Regions from separate parts of the Homo sapiens genome. Here region 1 is linked to region 2. The links come from fine-mapping of genetic effects on gene expression. Tissue or cell type: cerebellum. Region 2 holds a variant in brackets; the other region holds the start of a gene. All regions are shown on one strand. Distances are from middle to middle.

Evidence for each region. PIP is the estimated chance that this variant, and not a neighbour inherited with it, causes the effect.
Region 1: RASSF8-AS1 starts here. The variant in region 2 is fine-mapped to the expression of RASSF8-AS1 in cerebellum (GTEx, PIP 0.99).

The regions. Positions count from the first base shown.
Region 1 is chr12:25,953,722-25,963,979 of GRCh38, reverse strand. RASSF8-AS1 (RASSF8 antisense RNA 1) reads left to right here and starts at 4,538. Exons shown (of 4, transcript NR_038228.1): 1 at 4,538-4,654; 2 at 7,216-7,341; 3 at 7,633-7,753; 4 at 8,739-9,326. RASSF8 (Ras association domain family member 8) reads right to left here and starts at 5,298. Exons shown (of 6, transcript NM_001394098.1): 1 at 4,832-5,298. RefSeq lists silencers at 4,687-4,736, 4,877-4,926, 4,997-5,096, 5,197-5,686.
Region 2 is chr12:25,895,190-25,905,447 of GRCh38, reverse strand. No RefSeq gene overlaps it. Among named protein-coding and RNA genes, the nearest start is that of MIR4302, 26 kb to the right of the region's middle. RefSeq lists an enhancer at 6,084-6,253. The variant T/C (reference allele first, on the strand shown) is at 5,911.

The DNA of each region.
Region 1 (10,258 bases), 59 kb before region 2:
GTAAGGGTCTGGCTTGCAGGGGCATCTCTCTCTTCTCATGCCTTCCTGACTAGAAAATCAGGAGTGGGGAAATGTAGGAACAAAAGGAACAATTTTCTTTTGTGAAGCAAATATATGGAAAGAAAGCCTAAGCTTCACTTTTCCAATTCTGACCAGATAAACTACTCACTCCTCCTCTTCGAGAGCACCCAACAGGGGCTCAAAAATGCTGCTTTCATCCTCCTTGCTCTCCCAACCCAAGAGCACCCAGGCTACGGAAACCTCAGGGTCCAGACCACTCAAAGGATCACAGTTTGGGAACCCCCGAGGTGGACTGCAGAGGAGTACGTTCTGAAGGACTTGAATCAGCTCCAAAGTGCCCCCACACACTCAGTGATCTATAAGATACAAAACTAGAAAGAACTAGAACTACACTCTAAGGGTGTGAGGAAATGATTTTTAAGGAATACTAAAGTCCTAAAAAACAAGTCAAGAGAAAAATGCAGAATTATGTAAGAAGTAGAGATTACAAACATCAATAACAGACATAAGTACTTCAGAGTTAGAGGACATCAAGCTAATATTTCGTAAAGAGCAACCACATGACAAAAATACTCAAAGCTGTAAGCCTTCCTTGGCCTTGGAAGGTCATGAGACTTTTTTTTTTTTTTTTTTTTTTGGCTAAAACAAGGAATGCTTTAGTGAGAGAGAAGAAAAGAACTTCCAGACTTCTAGGTGGCTCCCACTTTTTTTAAAAAAAACTCCTCCTCTCTCTTAAGTGTATGGTCCAGTGATGTCTGGTTACCATGCAAGTCACATCAACAGCTGGACAGCACTGAGCATCCTTAGAACTCTAGGTCTTGTTTTTCTACTAAAGTTTTCCCAATCTTCCTTTGATGTCTGGCACCACCAGCCGACAGCAGCTGACTAACGTGTTATCATGTGACGCTCTGTAAAATAGTAAGGCACAGTAAGATTTTTTTTCCTTTCAGTAAGCTTATGCTGATAAAAAAATAATTATTTTAATGATGTATTTAGAAAAAGGATTATGTACAACAGAAAGTCACAAGGGTAACACTAATTAAAAGGTGTCTCAATTTATTACTACGAATATTTCACAGAACCTACATGCATTTTTACCTGATATTTGCAAAGGCCGTTTCATATTATACATATAACCAGCAAAGAAGGAATATAGAAAAGTGTGGGTCTGGCTTTTCTATCATGAAAAGCAAATTTAACAGTGATAAAGAAGGCAATCAAGATACAAATACAGAAGCCAGGCATGGTGGCACACACCTGTAGTCCCAGCTACTCAGGAGGCTGAGGCAGGAGGATCACTTGAGGCCAGGAGTTTAAGACCAACTGGGCAACATAGTAAGACTCCATTTCAAAAAAAAAAGATAAAGATACAAACTGATATTACGATCTTACTCATTATATCAACATATTTATTGAGCACCTACTACATATACTGGGCACTGGTGATTAAACCAGGTATTATCAACTTCATATTAACCTAAAGGGCAAGAAAAGGACCCTAAGTGATTAAATAATATATAAATTGTGGTAAATATTCAGAAGCAAAAGTGATTACGCTATGAGGGAGAAAATAAAGGACATTTAATTCGCATGACGATAAGGGTGGGCTTGTCAGAGAAGACCTTTATGAGAAAGGACATTTGAGCTAGCACCCAAGGATGATAAGTTACTCAAGGAGATGATCCTAAAATAGGGAGACCAACAGCATGAGCCACAGGCCTGAGGCTAGTCTGCTGGAGAACTGGCCAAGATGACAGCAAGAGATGCAAGTGGATGTAGAGATCAAATCATGCAGGATCCTGAAGTAATGTCAAGGATTTGGTATCTTATCCCAAAAATAAATAAATGTGTTTCCTGAGAGCCCTGACAACTTTAAGACGGCAAATACTTTTTCTTTTTTTTTTCAGGCTGCTGGTAGTAAAACAGACTGCAAGGGGTGCAGAGTGTGTGCAGGAGGCACCGCACCAAGGAAAAAGATAATACAGTACAGTGGCTTGCATTAGGATGGCAGAATAGTGGGGACTGAAAATCAGACCGGTTTGAAAGAGATTTTGCAATAAAAATGGACAGCAGGACTTTATGATGGACTGGTTTGCTAGGGCTGATAGAAGAAAAGAGAGAGTGGAGTGAGCTACTCCTTGGATGGATGAGATGAAAAATGGAGGGGGAACAGTTTGAAAGTTTGAGTGACCAAGAGCTCAATTCTGAAGGAGTTTGAGATGTTGTCATTTATTGGCTGAAATGTGCCAGGCACATCTAATATATATTAGATGTTCTACTCACCATAGCATCCCTTTAAGTAGTGGTATCCCCATTTTCCAGAAATGCAACTGTAGATCACAGAGGCTGAAGTGGCATGGCCGAGCTCACTCACCTCGGGAGTGACAAAGTCACACGTGCAACCCAAGTCTGGCTGGCAGTGGGGTAAACATTCTTTCCACTATACAGAATACTTGGAAACTCTCTCTACACTTTGAATTTTTAAGTCTATTTAGGGTTAGAGCAAGTTAGCATCAAAGAAGAGTAAATAAACGTTATATTATTTTGTAATCCAAATCTTTAATTTATGATGCATGTTTTTCTATCCAACTCCCATTCCCACTCCACTTTTACTTGCAAAGAGTTTTGTAATGTTTTGAACACTAGCAAGATATCTAAGATCTTAATGTTTTATAATAAAGGAGCAAAGCCATTATGCCAGGAATTAACCATAAGAAAAAGACAACAATATCCCACGGCAAACAATATTTTTACTTCCAAGTCATTATATACATCAACATAAAACAGATCAATTAATGAGTCAGAAACCCTGAAGAACTAATCATTTCTCAAAACACAAGGCAGTCAGGTCAAAAACTGACGTAAGTCACCACGTATAGAAGCCTACAAGAGCCAAACACTGAAGATTCAGGTTAAAAGGTTGCAACCTTAAAAAAATAAATAAAAGGCAAAACAAATTATACAACCATGTCGAATTTTAAATCTGTAATTACCAAATATCTGAACCAAATGCCAAATTCAGGAAACATGCATCCTATAAACAACTTAAACACTCTCTGTTCTTTGTAACTGTTTTTTCCAGAAGCACACTGACACTTCTGCAAAGTGAAGTGCCTTTCCTGCCTGCACAGCCCCATGATTTGCTCCCTCTCAGGGCCCTCTAATGCACCCCTAAGCTACTAAAGCCCAGACATAAGATTTGATCAATAAACCTAGAAAGAACTCAGTGCATTACTGCCAATTGTGTCCATCACAGAAAGTACCACCTGGAGACTCTTGAGGAAAAAAATGAGGAAGGGGGAGATTTTTGAAAGGTTTTATCATCTGTATTACAAATTATATTTTGTTGTACTTGATCCTTGAATAGAATAATCATCAAACTATGTTCAGTCTTCTTCAAGTGGGGGATGGTCATGTGTAATTTTATGGTTTGGGGAGTGTGCCTCATAGAGATAAATAAAATTAAAAGTACCATTAGTATGCCCGCTAAAAGATAAAACTCACACAAACCACTTCCCCAAATGATAGTGCTGTCTCCTGCGTCCTGATTTTTGCGTCCACCCTGCACCTCTCCCTGCAGAAAGCTGGCTGGCATTCACTACCGCCTCACTCTGGCAAAGGACAGGATGTCGAAAACCCATTAAGAAAGCTTCTCATTTTCTGTTCCTTCATAACATGATGGCAACTCCTGGCAACTCCAAGATGAAAGGCAAAAAAGAAAATAAAAACTACCTGGGGCCCCCTACCAGAATGAGTGGTTAATCTAATGGAGAGAAAAGCAGAGATTTATACATATTTTAAAATGCTTCCTGGGGACAAAGCAGATCTAATGAATTGCTGAGCCACAATCTACTGGAAAATCCATAAATGTTCGTCCCTGCTGTCACAGGGCTAGAGGATTTTTTTTTTTAATGAAATGCTTTAATGCTAACCTGACAGGGCTAACCTGACAGGTTTAAGTCAGCTATGAGACGTGATTTGCATTCATTTCGCTTCTAAATCCCTAAAGATCAGCAACAATATTGACCCGCAATTATATATCCTACGTTGCACTGTTCAAGATGCCATTTGAGGCTGGGAAAGTAGTGGTTTAGCAACACCAGGCGGCTCTATGATGCTAAAATAACAACGCAACACTGGATTCCGAACCCAAGTACTCATCTTTTAAAACCCAGTGCCGCACCAGGACCCACATTCAAAGCTCGCGTCCCTTCAAGTTGAATCTTCCGGCTTTGTGCGATTTACCCTCTCAAACTTTCTAGTTTGCAAGTCAGAATTACTTTGAACGTCCCCTCTTCTGGACTCCCCTCCCCAAAGGGACTGGCGGCAAAGGAGAATAGAATGCAGATGGTTAATAGTTCAAATGAAATTTAAAAACCTATAAACCAATATTTTTTTAGAGGAGAAAAGCGTTCACCAAACCGCCACCCGGCAAGCGAGCATCCGATTTCCATCCGGAGGAAAAAATATTTTAAAAACCAGACATAAAATTCCCTTTGCAAGAAAAGTGGCCTCTAAACTCCCTTGCCAAGGACACTGGGAGGAAGCAGAAAAGCAAAGACCAAGCTCGTACTTTTCAGTCCGCGGCTTGTGTGCCGCGAGGAGAGGCGCAAAGGGTGACACACCAGGAAAGGTGAACGCAGAGGGAGCGGGAGCCCGCGGCGGGGCAGGGTGGGGGCGGAACGGACGAGGTACCCAAGGTGCGGAGAGAGGGGCAACCGGGCGGAGGGCAGCTCCGAGGCTGCAGGCGGGACGGGCGGGGTCCCCGGCGCAGCCCGGATCGCCGCCGCTAAGTAAAGTTAATACTTACTCAGTTTCGCAACTGCGCCGCCCCCGCAGGCCGCCCAGAGGGGCCGGCCGGGGCGCTGGGGACGCGGCGGCACCCGGAGCTCCGCGGCCGCCCAGCGCCCGTCCCCGCGCCGCACTCCCCGGCACTCCCCGGCGCTCCCCGCGCCGCGCGCCCCGCACCGGCTGGAGGCCCCGGCCCCCCGGCGTTCCCTCTCCGCGCACCTCCCGGCCCGCGCTAGGTGAGTGTGGACGCCACTGGCGGGGGTGCCGCGGTGCGCGAGCGCTCGGCCAGCGGCAGAGACGCCGCGGGAGCCGCCCCCAGCGCCAACGCCGCCGCGGGCGGGAAGGGCGAGGCTCGGCGAGGCTGGGCGAGGAGCTGGGCGGCAGACGCTGAGCGGGGCGCGGCGCGGGGCGCCGGACGAGCGCGGGCGTAGGAGGAGCGCGGGCGTAGGAGTCGGCGACCCGCTCGCTCCCGCGGCCGGTGCCTCTGGGCTGGGGGCCGGGCTGGGGGCCGGGCCGGGCCGGGCCGGGCCGGGCGGCCAGGCGGCTCCGCCCCTTCGCCGGGCAGCGGCTGAGCGCGCGAGAGGAGCGGCGCGGGGGCGCCCCCCTCGGCCGGGCGCTCGGGTTTCAGCCGCCGCTCCTCCGCGCCCCGCCCGCGCCTGGCCCGCTCGCCGGCGCCGGGAGAGACCTCGTAACGGAACTGGGACGCCAGCGCTGCATTGTGGGAGCTTTTAAAGCGGCGGGGAGCTCGGCGCGACCCTCGGGCCCACCGGGCCACGCTCGCCCGGCCCGCGACGCCCCCCCGCTGTCGCCTGGCCCGCGACGCACCGAGGCCTGAGGACCCGAAAGCCGGGCGCGGGGAGATGACCGGTGGCTCGTGACGGTCCCACGGGCAAAATCTTCCATCGCCCGGGGCTGAGACTTGTCAAACTGCCCTCTACGGTCACCCGGAAAGTAGGAGGCTTTTTCTGCAGAGGGGAAAAAAATCAAAAAGAGCCGTTCCATCCCCCCTCCAAGGACTGGGTTTGAATTGCTTTTCATCTGCAGTGGCTGTGATTCAGCGTCCCTCTTAGCAGCAGGCAATGACAGAGGCAGGAGAGGGGAAAAAAAAAAAGAAAGAAAGAAAAAACACAGCAAATGAATCAAACGGACGTGAGTAACAAAAGTTTAGAAAGAGCTGGGCTCGTATTCAGAAAAAACGCCTCATCCCCCCGCCCCGCTGCACTCCCAACCCCTTTAAAAATAGCAGATAATCAAGAAAGGAAACGGGTGCTTTCATATGGAAATACAGATGTGTATGTTGTTTTCAATATTCTACTGTTTTTTTGTGTGTGGCATGCAATTACTCAGGCACTGGGCAAAATTCAGCCTTTGGATTTTGTGGTCACACATACCCCAACTCCGCAACAGCTATTAATTTGCAGGGCGATGGGGTGCGGATAGTGGATGAGATACAAGAAAGCATTCCAATTAAAATGCCCCCCCCCACCCCGCCTTTTAATTTTCCAGACACTTGCTTTTATTTTTCTTTTTTTAAACATCATCAAAACAAGAATATTAAACTTGAAGCAGAATTTGTTACAGCGTATCTGACTCAGGACCTGATTTAAGGTTTGGGGTTTTTTGGCCCTTTGTTTCTTCCTCTTGTTTTTTGACCTTTAGTTACTCCACACCTCATTAGTTCCTTGACCTGCAGGTGGACTGAGAAGAGAGCCATGGTAAGACTCAAATTTGTCAAATCAACATTTGGAGAGGAGAAAGTTCACTGTGATTCAAATGCAAAACCAAAGGGAATATGATTTAAAAGTCAACCTGGAGGGCATGGATCCTCCCTTAACCCTACTTGACTCTTTTCAAAGGAGTTGCCTAGCCTTAAGGTGAATGTTTCCTAACCTCTCATTCCCTTCTCAGCCTTTCACTCCACTGAACAACATCAGCCATTGCTTAATTGCCAAATCTAATGGAAAAATTTAATTCCCATCTTGTGCCCTTTGTGGCATTTGCCAATGTTGACCTCTCCTTCTTAGAACTTTCTGCCTTTTGGCCGGGCGCGGTGGCTCATGCCTATAACCCCAGCACTTTGGGAGGCCAAGGCTGGCAGATTGCCTGAGGTTGGGAGTTCGAGACCAGCCTGACCAACATGGAGAAACCCCGTCTCTACTAAAAATACAAAATTAGCCGGGCATGGTGGCACATGCCTGCAATCCCAGCAACTGGGAGGCTGAGGCAGGAGAATCGCTTGAACCTGGGAGGCAGAGGTTGCAGTGAGCCGAGATCACGCCATTGCACCCCAGCCTGGGCAACAAGAGCGAAACTCCATCTCAAAAAAAAAAAAAAAAAAAAAAAAAAAACTTTCCTCCTTTCTTTGGCTGTGGTAGTGATCCCTCTTTTGTGTACTTCTTGAAGCAGGTAGCAGGCAAGAGTGTGGTTATCGTTGGACCAGGATTCAGGATCTGACTGAGTAGCTGACTCTTAATCCAGTTTGTGTTGATCACCAGGAGGATCTGGACCTCAGTATTACCACATCTAGAGGTGAGCAAGTTGACTGACTCTTGATAACTAACTCTTATATGATGAGCATTTATATCAGGACAGAACTTCCTGATTGGATAACAATACCTACTATTTAGGAAAAACCCTTCCTAAAAATCCAGGTATCCTCACCTCCAGTCTTACTGATGGCTGCCAAAGTCAGTGAATTTGCCTCCATTCAGTGCTGGATAAGTGCAGAAAAATCTTTACCCTACCTAGCCCATTTGGTTAATGCGTTCTTTCTTCAGAGTGTAGTACAATTTGTTTTAAGCTTTTTTTTTTTTTTGGTAGCTATAATCACATCCCTGTTAAGCCTTCCTGAGATCACACCAAATGTCCTTGATGGGAATTGTAAACAACCCTTACTTCTGGTTTCTAATGATATTCCAGGAAAGGAGCCTAACTAGAGTCAGTGAGTATTCATGCACTTCAAACCCTGTGACATAATAAGATTTGATTTTTAAGAAAACAACTTGAGAGGATGGATTCAGAAAAGAGGCAGATCCAAGGGAGAGTCTAAACTGGAGAGCAGTGGCAATGAACAGGAGGAGGCCATATCGAGAGATGAATTGATCATCTTATAGACCTGGAGGTCAGAAATCTAAAATCAAAGTGTGGGCTGTGTTCCTTCTGGAGGATCGAGGGGAGAATCCATTTCCTTGCCCTTTTCAGCCTCTAGATGCCACCTGCATTCCTTGGCTTATAGTCCCTTTCTCTATGTTTAAGGCCAACTGCATAGCATCTTCCCCCATTTCTTTGTAACTTCTGCTTCATGGTGATGGGGACATCTCTCTCTCTGATCGTAGGAATTGATTTAGATGCTTTTCTAGCCATATGTATTATGAACTAAATGCAGTTGAATTACTTATGGGAGGAAATGGCAGGTGACCTCATTACTTGTCAAATCATCGTTAGATAACTGACTTGACTGTTAAGATTGCTGAAGCAGTGATTTATTACCTCAGCTAAATCTGTATCAATCTGGTGACCCGTGTAACTGAAACCAAGATGTTAACACTGTAAGAAAACCTAGCTTATGTTTGCAGCTCCTGAGAATAAATCCCTTTATCTTGAAATACCTGGAAATCCCTTTTTAATGTCCAGTGGAGTCATATTGCCAAGTTTGAGAAATGTGTCTAGACCAGTATTTCCCAAACAGCCCACCAGACAACACCAGCCTGTAAGATGGTGATATTGTTTGGATGTTTTTTCCCTCCAAATTTCGTGTTGAAATGTGACCGCCATGTTGGAGTTGGACCTAGTGGAAGGTATTTGGGTGATGGGGAATCTCTTGTGTGGCTATGTACCTTCCCTGCAGTAATGAGTTCATGAAAGATCTGGATGTTTAAAAGAGTCTGTGATCTTCCTCCTCTCTCTCTTGCTCCTGTTCTTGCCAGGTGATATGCCAACTCCACCTTTGCCTTCCACCATGTTTGGAAGCTCCCTGAGGCCTCACCAGGAGCAGATGCTCGTCCCATGCTTCCTATAAGCCTGCAGAACTGTGAGCCATAATAAACTGTGAATTATAAATTGCCTTTATAGCAATGCAAATGGACCAGTACAGATGGGATGCTGGGAAGACAGTTGTTTCCACCTTCAGTAAAGTCCGTGGAACACAGTTGTGACTATATTCTAGGCCAGCCAAGATGCTTGTACTCAGAAAGGAGTGGTCTCAGGACCATAAGAAAGTGAAAAAATAAAAATAAGAAAATAAAGAAGGGATTGTCAATGAATCAGAATTCATCAAGGTCAAAGTCTTAGGAAATTCCTTCATGAGGAAGTCTAGGGGGGCTATGGAAATGAAATTTTTAAACAAATAGGTATGTGGTGCTGGCAGGAATAAATTATGGACTTATGAATATAACATAAGATTCTTTATTACCTGGTCTCACCCGTCTTTCCACCTCTGCCCCCCTTCTTGCCCGACTCTGTGTATCACCCATAATAAACTACTTACAGCTTCCTAGTGTTAAATTTACCCTAAAGCTGCCTCCTTCAATATTTTAAGTTTAACCTAAAGGTTCTTCATACATAGTGAACTATAACCCAATGATTAAACAGATTGTAACCTACTCTTGTACCAGTCACCAAGTTTCAGCCAATCAGAGGTGGCCAACTGTTCAAACCATGCTCAAATAAGGGAAATGTCATGGTGTAACTAATCCAGCTGTTTCTATACCTTACTTCTGTTTTCTTAGGTCACTTTCCTTTTTTGTCCATAAATTCTCTCCAACCACTCAGCAGCACTGGAGTCACTCCAAAGCTATCCTGGTTCAGGGGTCTGTCTGATTCACAAGTCATTCTTTGTTCAATTGAGCTCTGCTAAATTTAATTTGTCTGAAGTTTTTCTTTTAACAGATGGTGTCAGAAATGGACCCCAAAGTAGAGCTCCCAGTGATCCCCCAGGAGCACTGAGTGACCACAAGGGGTACCTGCTGGGCCCGTCCTCTCGCAGTGTCCACTGCTCTCTTACAGCAACTGGAGATTGTGGCTGCATTCTCTCTCAGATTCTGAAGCTCCATACATTGCCGTTTTCAGCTGTTCAAGCTTGCTTGAGCAAATTTTTGATCTTAGCTGAGTTTGGAAGTCGATAGACATTGGACTGGGTCCAGGATTTGATTGGATCTGATAATTAACTGGCTTGGATCCAGTTAGATGCCTCGGTTATCTGACTGGGTCAGATAGAAACCGCCAGTAAATATTTTAATAACAATACTGCAGGGGTATGAACTCTGGCTTTAAGAAACTCACAAGGAATTTTATGTTCTATACCCTTTGTTTCTTTTTCTTGTGTGCTTCGGTCAGGAAAAATCATTAGTCAAGTTAATCAAGGGGATCTGAGAGCCAAATACAAGATTCAACGTAAAAATGGAATCCTTGGGCTAGGCGTGGTGGCTCAGGCCTGTAATCCCAGGAC
Region 2 (10,258 bases):
TCAAGGAATTTACTATCTTGAACAACTGGGATTAAAATGTACAACTAATTTAAGTGCTCTAAGAACCTGGGTATTCCCAAATAACAGATACTTACATGGATTATCCAAATGTTTCATGATAGCTATCATTACTGAGTGTATACCATGCACCAAAACCAATCTCAATGCTTTACACATATTGACTCAGTTAATTTAATCCTCCCAATAAAGTTATGAGGTAGGTCCTATTATTACGCTCAGTTTATAGAGAAGGACACTAAATCACACAGTGATTAAGGGATTTGCTCAAGACCATATAACCAGCAAGTGTCAGAGTTAGGTTTCACACAGGCAGCCAGCTCCAGAGCCCAGTGACTTAACCCATCCATTGGGCTACCTCTATGCAGGTTTCCCAGCACACCTGTCCCCTCCAGGTCTTCCTGAGCAGCTCAGCACATGATGAGTGGGCTGTCATGAGCTTCACCAGCACCTACCAGACTCTGCTTGTTACTGTCTAAGGCCACTGTTGTAGGCTGTTACCTTGACATAGCCTCTGAGATGGAGATTTGCATGCAGGAGATTAACCAAGGAGAACTCCCAAGAACATCTATTAAGGAGTGGAGGAATCAGGAAGGACCAGCATCCATTCAGAGGAGAGGCCTGAACCATGATGCTGTTGCAATGGAGGCCTTAGCAGATCCCCTGGGGAGCTCTAGATCTGGAATGGCCCATCCTGAATTGAGGCAAGGGTGCAGGGTGTTTGTACCCTCATCTCTAGGAGTCACTGGATGCTGGCTGCCCTAGGAGAGCAAGGCAGCTGCCTTTGACTGAGAGCAATTTCTGAGGAAGGAGTTAGTGGTGAGTCATCAGGAGGCAACTCTTCCAGCAGTGAAGGGAATAAGAACTTCAGCCCTAGTCTGGGCAACATAGCAAGGCCCCCATCTCTACAAAAAGAAAAATAGAAAAAATTAGCCGGGCATTATGGTGTGTGTCTGTGGTCCCAGCTACTCAGGAGGCTGAGGTGAGAGGATCCCTTGAGCCCGAGAGTTCGAGGCTGCAGTGATCTATGATTGCACCACTGTACTCCAGCCTGGGTGACAGAGTGAGATTCTGTCTATAAATAAAAAAATTAAATTAAAAAAGAACCCTAGCCATAAAGAGGGCATCTGGGCAATGCACCATATATCTACTGTAGACCCGCAAAGTCAGGATGAAATGAGAGGCATGGAAGAGAGTATTTTAAGAAAGGAGTCCCTACTTTGTTTCTCTGCAATGTTTCTCTGCCTTGGAAGGAATGAAAGGAACTGCTCACCTGTTGCCTCCCCTTCCACATCCCACTTCTTTTCATTCTATGGCTGGATTACTAAGGCTCTTGCAAAAATTTGCACGGGTAGCTCAGCTGGGTGGATTCAGATTGGTCAGTCCCTCAGTGATGATATGACTGATGAGCAATTGCTCTCTCTCTCTCCCTCCCTCAAAGAACATTTTTTTTTTTTTGCTCACTCTCTCAGATATTAATATGTCCCTTGGAATGGAAGCTGACTCTTGATATAAAAGCCATAGCTCAGAGAAGCTCTATATTATACCTGAAATGGTGAAATGAGAAAGCAATAAAAACATGCTTCTATAGGCCTCCTCTTACTCAACAGCATAGACTTATCGCATCATTCTCTCTCTGTCTGCCTGTCTCTCCCTCTTCCTCTCTCTCCTCCACCCCCTTGCCATGTTTGCATGTGTGTGTGTTTTGGGAGAAACATGAAGATGTGTTATATTTATAGCAACACTGATCATGTATTAAAAGTCTCCTACACACCAGACACTTTATGCATATTATTGCTAAACATCCTGATACCCTCCATGGTAGGTATTATTCACCCTGTTTTATAGATGAGGAAATTGTTGTTCAAAGAGTTTCAGTGAATTGCTCATGACCCACAGCCAGTAAATGATAGAACAAGAACATTTAAGCACTCTTTTCACATCCCAAATCCATATAGACTTTGTGAAAATATTTAAAAAGGGGTTTGAAGCTCCTTGAGTTTCATTTGGGGAGTTTTGGGGCAGATGTTAGCCCTGAAAGTCAGGAAAATGAATTTACGTGTGGATAAATAGGACTTTCCTCTGCCCTGCTCGCATTCTCCTGCAGTCCACCTTGTGTATCCTGTGTGGGATGGCAGGCACTCATTGTTTACACACCCACAGTAACACACATGGTCTTTATTTAATGAGAAAACTTTAATAACTGGTTTTTGCCTTGCTAGGAACAGCCTCTAATCTTCCTGGTAGAAAGTGGTAAATTTTCCTCTCACAGCTGGTCTGGGCTTCAATCAAAATACAATAGTTAACTTTTCATCTGTTTGAAGATCTGGAATAAGAACATGCGATGTACAATTGCATAATGTCATGGTCCAAACTGAAATACATTTGCCTTTAAATGTTCTTTATAGGATTTTTCCACCACACCTAAAGTGAAAGCTGGTGAACTTAAAGCTGGTAATCCAAAGATTTAAGACACTTTCATGCTGCTATTTTAATAGAGCCTTCTAAAGGGAATGCCATTACCTAAAGGATTGGTCCTCATTGTGAAAAGGTTTGGCTTTGATGCTTTTGCCTTAGAGAAGGACCCTAATCTTTGCCACCAGCTCCCAGGTTGGGAGCAAAAACAAAGCAGGGGCAAGGGCAGTAAGTCCTTATCTTGGAGGAAGAATGGATAAAAATGTGTACTCTCTTGCCAGGTGTGGTGGCTCACACCTGTAATCCCAGCACTTTGGGAGGCTGAGGCAGGCGGATCATGAGGTCAGGAGATGGAGACCATCCTGGCTAACACAGTGAAACCCTGTCTCTACTAAAAATACAAAAAAATTAGCTGGGTGTGGTGGCAGGCACCTGTAGTCCCAGCTACTCAGGAGGCTGAGGCAGGAGAATCGCTTGAACCTGGGAGGCGGAGCTTGCAGTGAGCCGAGATCGCACCACTGCACTCCAGCCTGGGTGACAAGGCAAAACTCCATCTCAAAAAAAAAAAAAAAAAGAAAAGAAAAGACTTGTGGAGAGAGGAACTGAGTTATGGGAAAAGACTGAAGAAGGGCCAGTTAACTGAAGGCTGAGAAATGTTAAGATCTGAATTGGAGGGAAAAGGGAGAAATAGAAATGTTTTTACTGTAGTCAGATTTTTTTTTGGTTTGTTTGTTTTGTTTTTTGTTTGTTTTTTTTTTACCTCAGTGGTACACAGATGGTTAAATATTGTCCTTGAGTAACTTAAATGACTAAACAGCCAGTGTAGCTTTCTGAACAGTGACCACAGGAAGATTTGGTTATGACATTGGTAAAATATTATAAGAAAACTCTTAGTGACAACATAATACATTCATGGATATAGCATAGCAGGACAAAAACATAGTAAGACACACTTACTGAGCAAAGGAAGCCACAGGCACTTCCCACTGTATCAAGAGGAACCCAAAAACGTACACATCACACAGAGCAATTTCATTCAGCATAAGAGCCATAGGCATTGGCAGACAACTTGGGATATGAAGACAAAGGGCTGTGAAACATTTATCTCACATAAAGTTGTTATTCTGGTAACATTCTTATGAAGAAAGGTTGATGTTGTATAATAAAACTCCAGGGTCACTGACTGTTGTACAGAGTTCAGCTGACAGTCTCCAAGCATGCTATAAACACGTGGTGTTTTTTGTTTTGTTTTGTTTTGTTTTTTTGCTTTTGTTTTTTGTTTTTGAGATGGAGTCTCTCTCTGTCACCCAGGTTGGAGGGCAGTGGCACAATCTTGACTCACTGCAACTTCCGCCTCCCACGTACAAGCAATTCTCCTGTCTCGGCCTCCTGAGTAGCTGGGACTACAAGTGTACCCCACCACACCTGGCTAATTTTTGTATTTTTAGTAGAGATACGGTTTCACCACGTTGGCCAGGCTGGTCTCGAACTCTGACCTCAAGTGTTCCACCTGCTTTGGCCTCCCAAAATGCTGGGATTACAGGCATGAGCCACTGCACCCTGCCTAATATGTAGTGGTTTTGAAAGGGAGAACCTCCAGAACAAAGAGGCTGACTGTCTTACTTAAGGACACACAACAGAATTAGTCCAGCCAGGCTACAGTCCTTAGTATCTCCTAAATGTAAGGTTTATTTTATTTATTTATTTTTAAGAGATAGGGTCTCTCATACCCAAAGAAACTGCAGGTAAAAAGACCAAAAAAAAAAAAAAAAAAGAGAGAGAGAGAGAAAGACAAGTTCTCACTCCGTTGCCCAGGCTGGAGTGTAGTGGCACCAGTAGCTGGGACTACAGGTGTGTGCCACCATACCTTGAAAAAAATTTTAAATTTTTCTGTAGAGATGGGGTCTCACTATGTTGCCCAGGCTGGTCTTGAACTCCTGTCCTCAAGCGATCTGCCTGCCTTGGCTTCCCAAAGTGCAGGGATTAGAGGCATGGGCCACTGCATCTGGCAAGCTTTTTATTATTCTTTCTGGTTCATTGTGCATGATTTTCCTCTGGGCACGAGAAGAAATGGTTTAACTCTTCCCGCCATTCTTCTCCTTCCTTTCAGGTTCAACTCAATTGTCACCTTTTTTCTCAATCACTACATCCCACCTCCCACCTTTGTCATCTTTGATAGCCCATAGTGCTTATTGCCTATACATTTTAGTAAATGAAAAAAATCATAGATTACCATGAACTTCATTATGATCTTTAAAAAGCATACCTTTTCTTAAACCAGGTGTGGTGGCTCACGCCTGTAATCCCAGCAGTTTGGGAAGCTGAGGCAGATGGATCACTTGAGGCCAGGAGTTCGAGACCAGCCTGGCCAACATGGCAAAATCGTATCTCCACTGAAAATACAAAAATTAGCTAGGCATGGTGGCAGGTGCCTGTATTCCCAGCTACTCAGGAGGCTGAGGCAGGAGAGTCGCTTGAACCTGTGAGGCAGAGGTTGTAGTGAGCCGAGATTGAGCCACTGCACTCAGCCTGGGCAACAGAGCGATACTTTGTCTCAAAAAACAAACAACAACAACAAAAAAGTCATTTTCTTAATAGAAGAAATAAGGATTTATTTGTACTCTAAAACTATTCTTATACTTTTTTTGTTTTTACCCAAACTTGTAACATAATGCCAAACTCATGACAACAGTCAGCAAATACTTGGTAATCAATGAGTGAACTAAGTTGTGTGACAATTAGGAATCACCAAATTATTAGTAACAATTACCTGATAAGAATGACTTTAAAAACATAGAGGTTATTTTATTTCACATTAAAAAAATAGTCTGAAAGCAGGAAGCTGGGGACTATGTAGTAATTATGCAACATCGTCCATGTCCCCAGGCTGCATCTAGGTTTTTGCTCCACTATTCTCAGAAGGCAGGGACCTACGTAAGGTTTCCTTTTGGTTGTAAAATTGCTGCTGAAGCTCCAGTCATTATACCTCAGCTAAAGACGTGAAGGGGGAAGAAAGGGTAAAGGGCAAGAAGAGCACAGATGAGTCAGCTCCCTTTAAGGAGCTTTCAGGAAAAGCTACCCACTTGACCACTGCATACTTCTCATTGGTCACCTTTTTTGTAGGGAGTCTGATCAATGTAATCTTTAGAGAGCATATTGTCAAACTAAAGAAGATCGGATTTGATTAGTGAGGAAGAAGAAATAAGAATATAGGATTGGCATTGCCACTCTCTGCCATAAGTAGTAGTTAATGTTGCCTTCTAATGGGGTTCTCTTGCTATACCCACAAGATATTCTCCCAATATAACGAGTCTCCCAATATAATGCTTCCAAATCTATGATTTGGAATTGAGACAAGGAAATATGAAAAGGGGTTATATCAGCCATCCTAGATAGGATTGATGAGTCAAGGATCTGGAGATGTCCAGGTAGGAGAAATCAGGCACTCTAGGACTAAGTGAGACTGTGAGCTGGAGT[T/C]GCAGTCCTCTGGAGATTAAGAAACTAGAGCTGTTGATGTTGTTAGAAGACAAGTATTGTGGTAGAGGCATTAAACAATGAGAGAAATTGGCAGCTATGATCTGAAGGTGAAATATGGAATTTAAAATTCCAGAGGCTTATCTGTTCCAGAGAGTGGCAAGATTTAGGGCTCTTGAAGTTCAGCAGAGCTGAAGGTCATTAGACTGGAAAGATCTATAAGCTTCCATAGCACAGAATTATATCTTGAATGTACTTTACGTATTTCCTAGCAGTGCCAAGCACAGATGGATTTTTTTTGTTGTTGTTGTACTAACACTATAACTACATTTTGGAAAATAAAGGGGGAGAATTACTCACATTCCCACCACCTACACAACTCATGTTCTCAATTGGTTGTGTTGCCTTCCACATGATGTACATAGCTGTAACCACAGTTTATATGTGAATATCTATCCTTTCAATTGAACATTGTAAGTATTTTTTCAAAAGCAATCACCCATACCTTTTATGATTAATCGATGGGTCTTTAAGTGTTTCAAATAACATTTTTGAAATTCTCTACATCACAGATCAAGATCATGTTCTTATCAACTCTTATTAATACAGAGCTCACCATCAAAAACAGGGGTTCAAGATTCCTAAGTGTGCCAGGCATGGTGGCTCATGCCTGTAATCCCAGAACTTCAGGAGGTTGAAGCAGGTGGATCACTTAAGGTCAGGAGTTCAAAACCAGCCTGGCCAACATGGCAAACCCTGTCTCTACTAATAATACAAAAATTAGCCAGGCATGGTGGTGCACACCTGTAATCCCAGCTATTCAGGAGGCTGAGGCAGGAGAATTGCATAAACAGGAGGCAGAAGTTGCAGTGAGTCGAGATGGTGCCACTGTACTCCATCCTGGGTGACAGAGTGAGTGAGTGAGACTGTGTCTTATAAAAAAAAAAGAAAGAAAGAAAGAAAAAGAAAAGAAAAGAAAGAGAAGAAAAAGATTCCTAAGTGTGTGTTTTGGTTTTTGCAAATTTGTTGCATCTTTAATTCTAATTTGAACAATGAGAATTTTTCTTTGTATGTTTTTGAATTCATTCTTGCTAGAGAAGACTGCAGAGGTTTAGCAATAGGATACAATGAATGATTGTTCCACTAAATCAGCCAGTCTTTTAGGAAACTTAAATCTTTCCAACCCAGAAAAAGACAAGAGATGTTCTTTGACCCCAGCTAGAGAAATGAGAACTGAACGAAATTTTAGAACTGTACTATCTTGTGGCTGGGGTAAGGATATACTGAGTATCTTCTTAGCACTCCTCTAAGGGGAAGCCCCTGGTCCTGGAGGAAGACAGATTCAGTGTCATCTTTGCACTTACCAGCTACAGACCTTGATTTGTACTCCAAACAACTTTATAATATTCCTAACTTCAAAGGATAGAGGAATGCAGTTAGTAAAAAAGATAAGAGCAACATATGCAACAACAAGATAAAAGAAGTCAGAAGACCATGCATCTCTAACAGTGAGACAAAAATGAGTGATGTCCCTATTTATTCCTGATAATTTGGTTGAAGTTTCACAGTGTTCTTCTTTAGTTTCACAAAAATGAGGATCGTCATCAGTAATCTATAGTATTCCAAAATTTTTATTTAAAATACTTATCAAAAGGGCTGGGTGCAGTGGCTCACACCTGTAATCCCACCACTTTGGGAGGCCCAGGTGGGTGGATCAGTTGAGGTCAGGAGATCGAGACCAGCCTGGCCAAACTGGTAAGACCCCGTCTCTACTAAAAATACAAAAGTTAGCTGGATGTGGTGGTGGGTACCTGTAATTCCAGTTACTTGGGAGGCTAAGGCAGGAAAATCCCTTGAACCCGGAGGCAGAGGTTGCAGTGAGCTGAGATCAGGCCACTGCACTCCAGCCTGGGTGATGGAGTGAGACTCTGTCTCAAAAACAAACAACTCCCCCCCAATAAAAACCCCACTTATCCAGAACCCAACAATTAATCTATATTGTAATTATCTATGGGTTCTTCTTGACCACTACACAGAAAAAATCAATCCATTGAAATCAAGGCATTTCAGTAGAGAGAGTTTAATTGAAATGAGGCCATCCCATACAGGAAAACTGGAGTTACCACACAAATCAGTCTCCCTGAAGGCTCAGAAGTTAGGGGTGTTTATGGGTGATTTTGTGAGCAGGGGGCTAGGGAATGGGTGCTACTGATTGGTAGGGGCTGATATCACAGGGGTGTGGAAAAATGGTCCTCATGCACTGAGTCTGCCTCTGGATGGGGCCACAGGATCGATTGAGTCATGAGTCATAAATCTGGGTGAAGGCAGTCTGAAAAACGTCTTGCAAAAAACCAATTTTAGGTTCTACAATAGTGATGTTATTTATAGGAACAATTGGGGAAGTCACAAATCTTGTGACCTCTGGCAACAGGACTCCTGAGCAGTAAGGGATTACACAAACTACATCTACATTTTAGCAGAGTTCAAGCCCCTTGGATAATTTTATCCTTGTGGCCTTTCATTAGTTTTACAAAAATGGTTTAGTTTTGGGAAGGGCTATCATAACCCTTGGTTTAAGGTTAAACTATAAAATAAATTCCTCTTAAAGTTAGCTTGGACCACACCCAGGAATGACCAAGAATAGTGTGAAGGTCAGAAGCAAGATGGAGTCCACTATGTCAAGTTTCTTTTACTGTACGATTTTGCAAAGGCAGGTTCGTTATAACGTGGAAAATGCTTACATTATAATGTTAATTTAAAATAAAATAATATGCCGGGCATGGTGGCTCATGCATGTAATTCCAGCACTTTGGGAGGCTGAGGTGGGTGGATCAACTGAGGTTGGGAGTTCGAGACCAGCCTGACCAACATGGAGAAACCTGTCTCTGCTAAAAATACAAAATTAGCCGGGCATGGTGGCACATGCCTGTAATCCCAGCTATTCAGGAGGCTGAGACAGGAGAATTGCTTGAACCTGGGAGGTGGACGTTGCAGTGGGCCGAGATACTGCCATTGCACTCCAGCCTGGGCAACAAGAGTGAGACTCTGTCCCAAAAAAAATAAAATAAGATAAAAGAATAGATGATCATATATAAGTTATGGATGCAGCTATATGCATCATGTGGAAGGAGATACATCAATTGAGAGCATGAGTTGTGTAGGTGGTGGGAATGTGAATAGTCCTCCCCCTCTATTTTCCAAAATGTAGTCATATTGTTTGTACGACAAAAAGAAAATCCATCTGTGCTTGGCACTGCTAGGAAATATGTAATGCACATTCAAGATATGATTCTGTGCTATGGGAGCTTACAGAGCTTTCCTACTCTAATGGCCTTCAGCTCTGCTACACTTAGAAAGCCAGGCCCTAAACCTTGTCACTGTCTGGAACAGCTAAGCCTCTGGAATCTTAAATTCCAGATTTCATCCTCTGACCACACCTGCCTATCTTTCCAGTTCTTTCATGTCTTTACCACAATACTTGCTTTTGAACACCATCAAGAGCTCCAGCTCCTTCACTTATCCCTAGAACACCTGATTTCTTCAGCATCCTTCCTTACACAATCTAAATTCAACTGCTATCTCACTAGCACCCTCAAATGTCTTGACACGGTTTCCTCCTGACTTACATGTACAGCAAACTCCCTACCATGGTTCAATTCACGCATCCTTATGGGTCACCTAAATTGCTATATAAACTCATACAAATATATGGATAGACTCTCTACAAAATTGTAAGCTTTCCGTTGCAGGCCAGGCTCAGTGCTACTCAAGAATCTTCCTACTCTTCCCTAGCTCTCTCCCTGTCATCTCCCACATTGGCTGGTTGACACACTTTCTACTTCTGTATCCCTTAAACATGTATTCTCCAGGGTTCTGTTGTCAGTCCCTTCTCTCTCTGTTCATTCTGCTTTAACTGCTATCAGTTGAGTATCTACCTCCAAATCCCACCCAGCCCCTGGCCCCACCCATGCATACTGCACTGGCTACTAGGGTATTTTTATTCTGGGATGTCACACAGATATCTCAGGACTAAACTCATTATATTTTAACCCAAAGACTTTCTTGTTAAAGGTCCTACATTTCAATTCTAATAGCAACTATCCAGCCACCAATTCAGAAATCTGGATGATAATTTTACTGCTTCTTCCCATTCAGCTCCTCTTTCTCATCAGTATAATCATATTCTGTTAATTATTTTAGTTTTCTTTAAAATCTGTACCTCTTTTTCATGCCCATCTTTGCTGCTTTGGTCATTTCCATCATAAATGACCTGGTACAGTGGCCTCATAACTGGTCTTCTTGACTCTTGAGTTGCTTCCTCCAAACCATACTCTTCTCTCCTGCCAGCTTA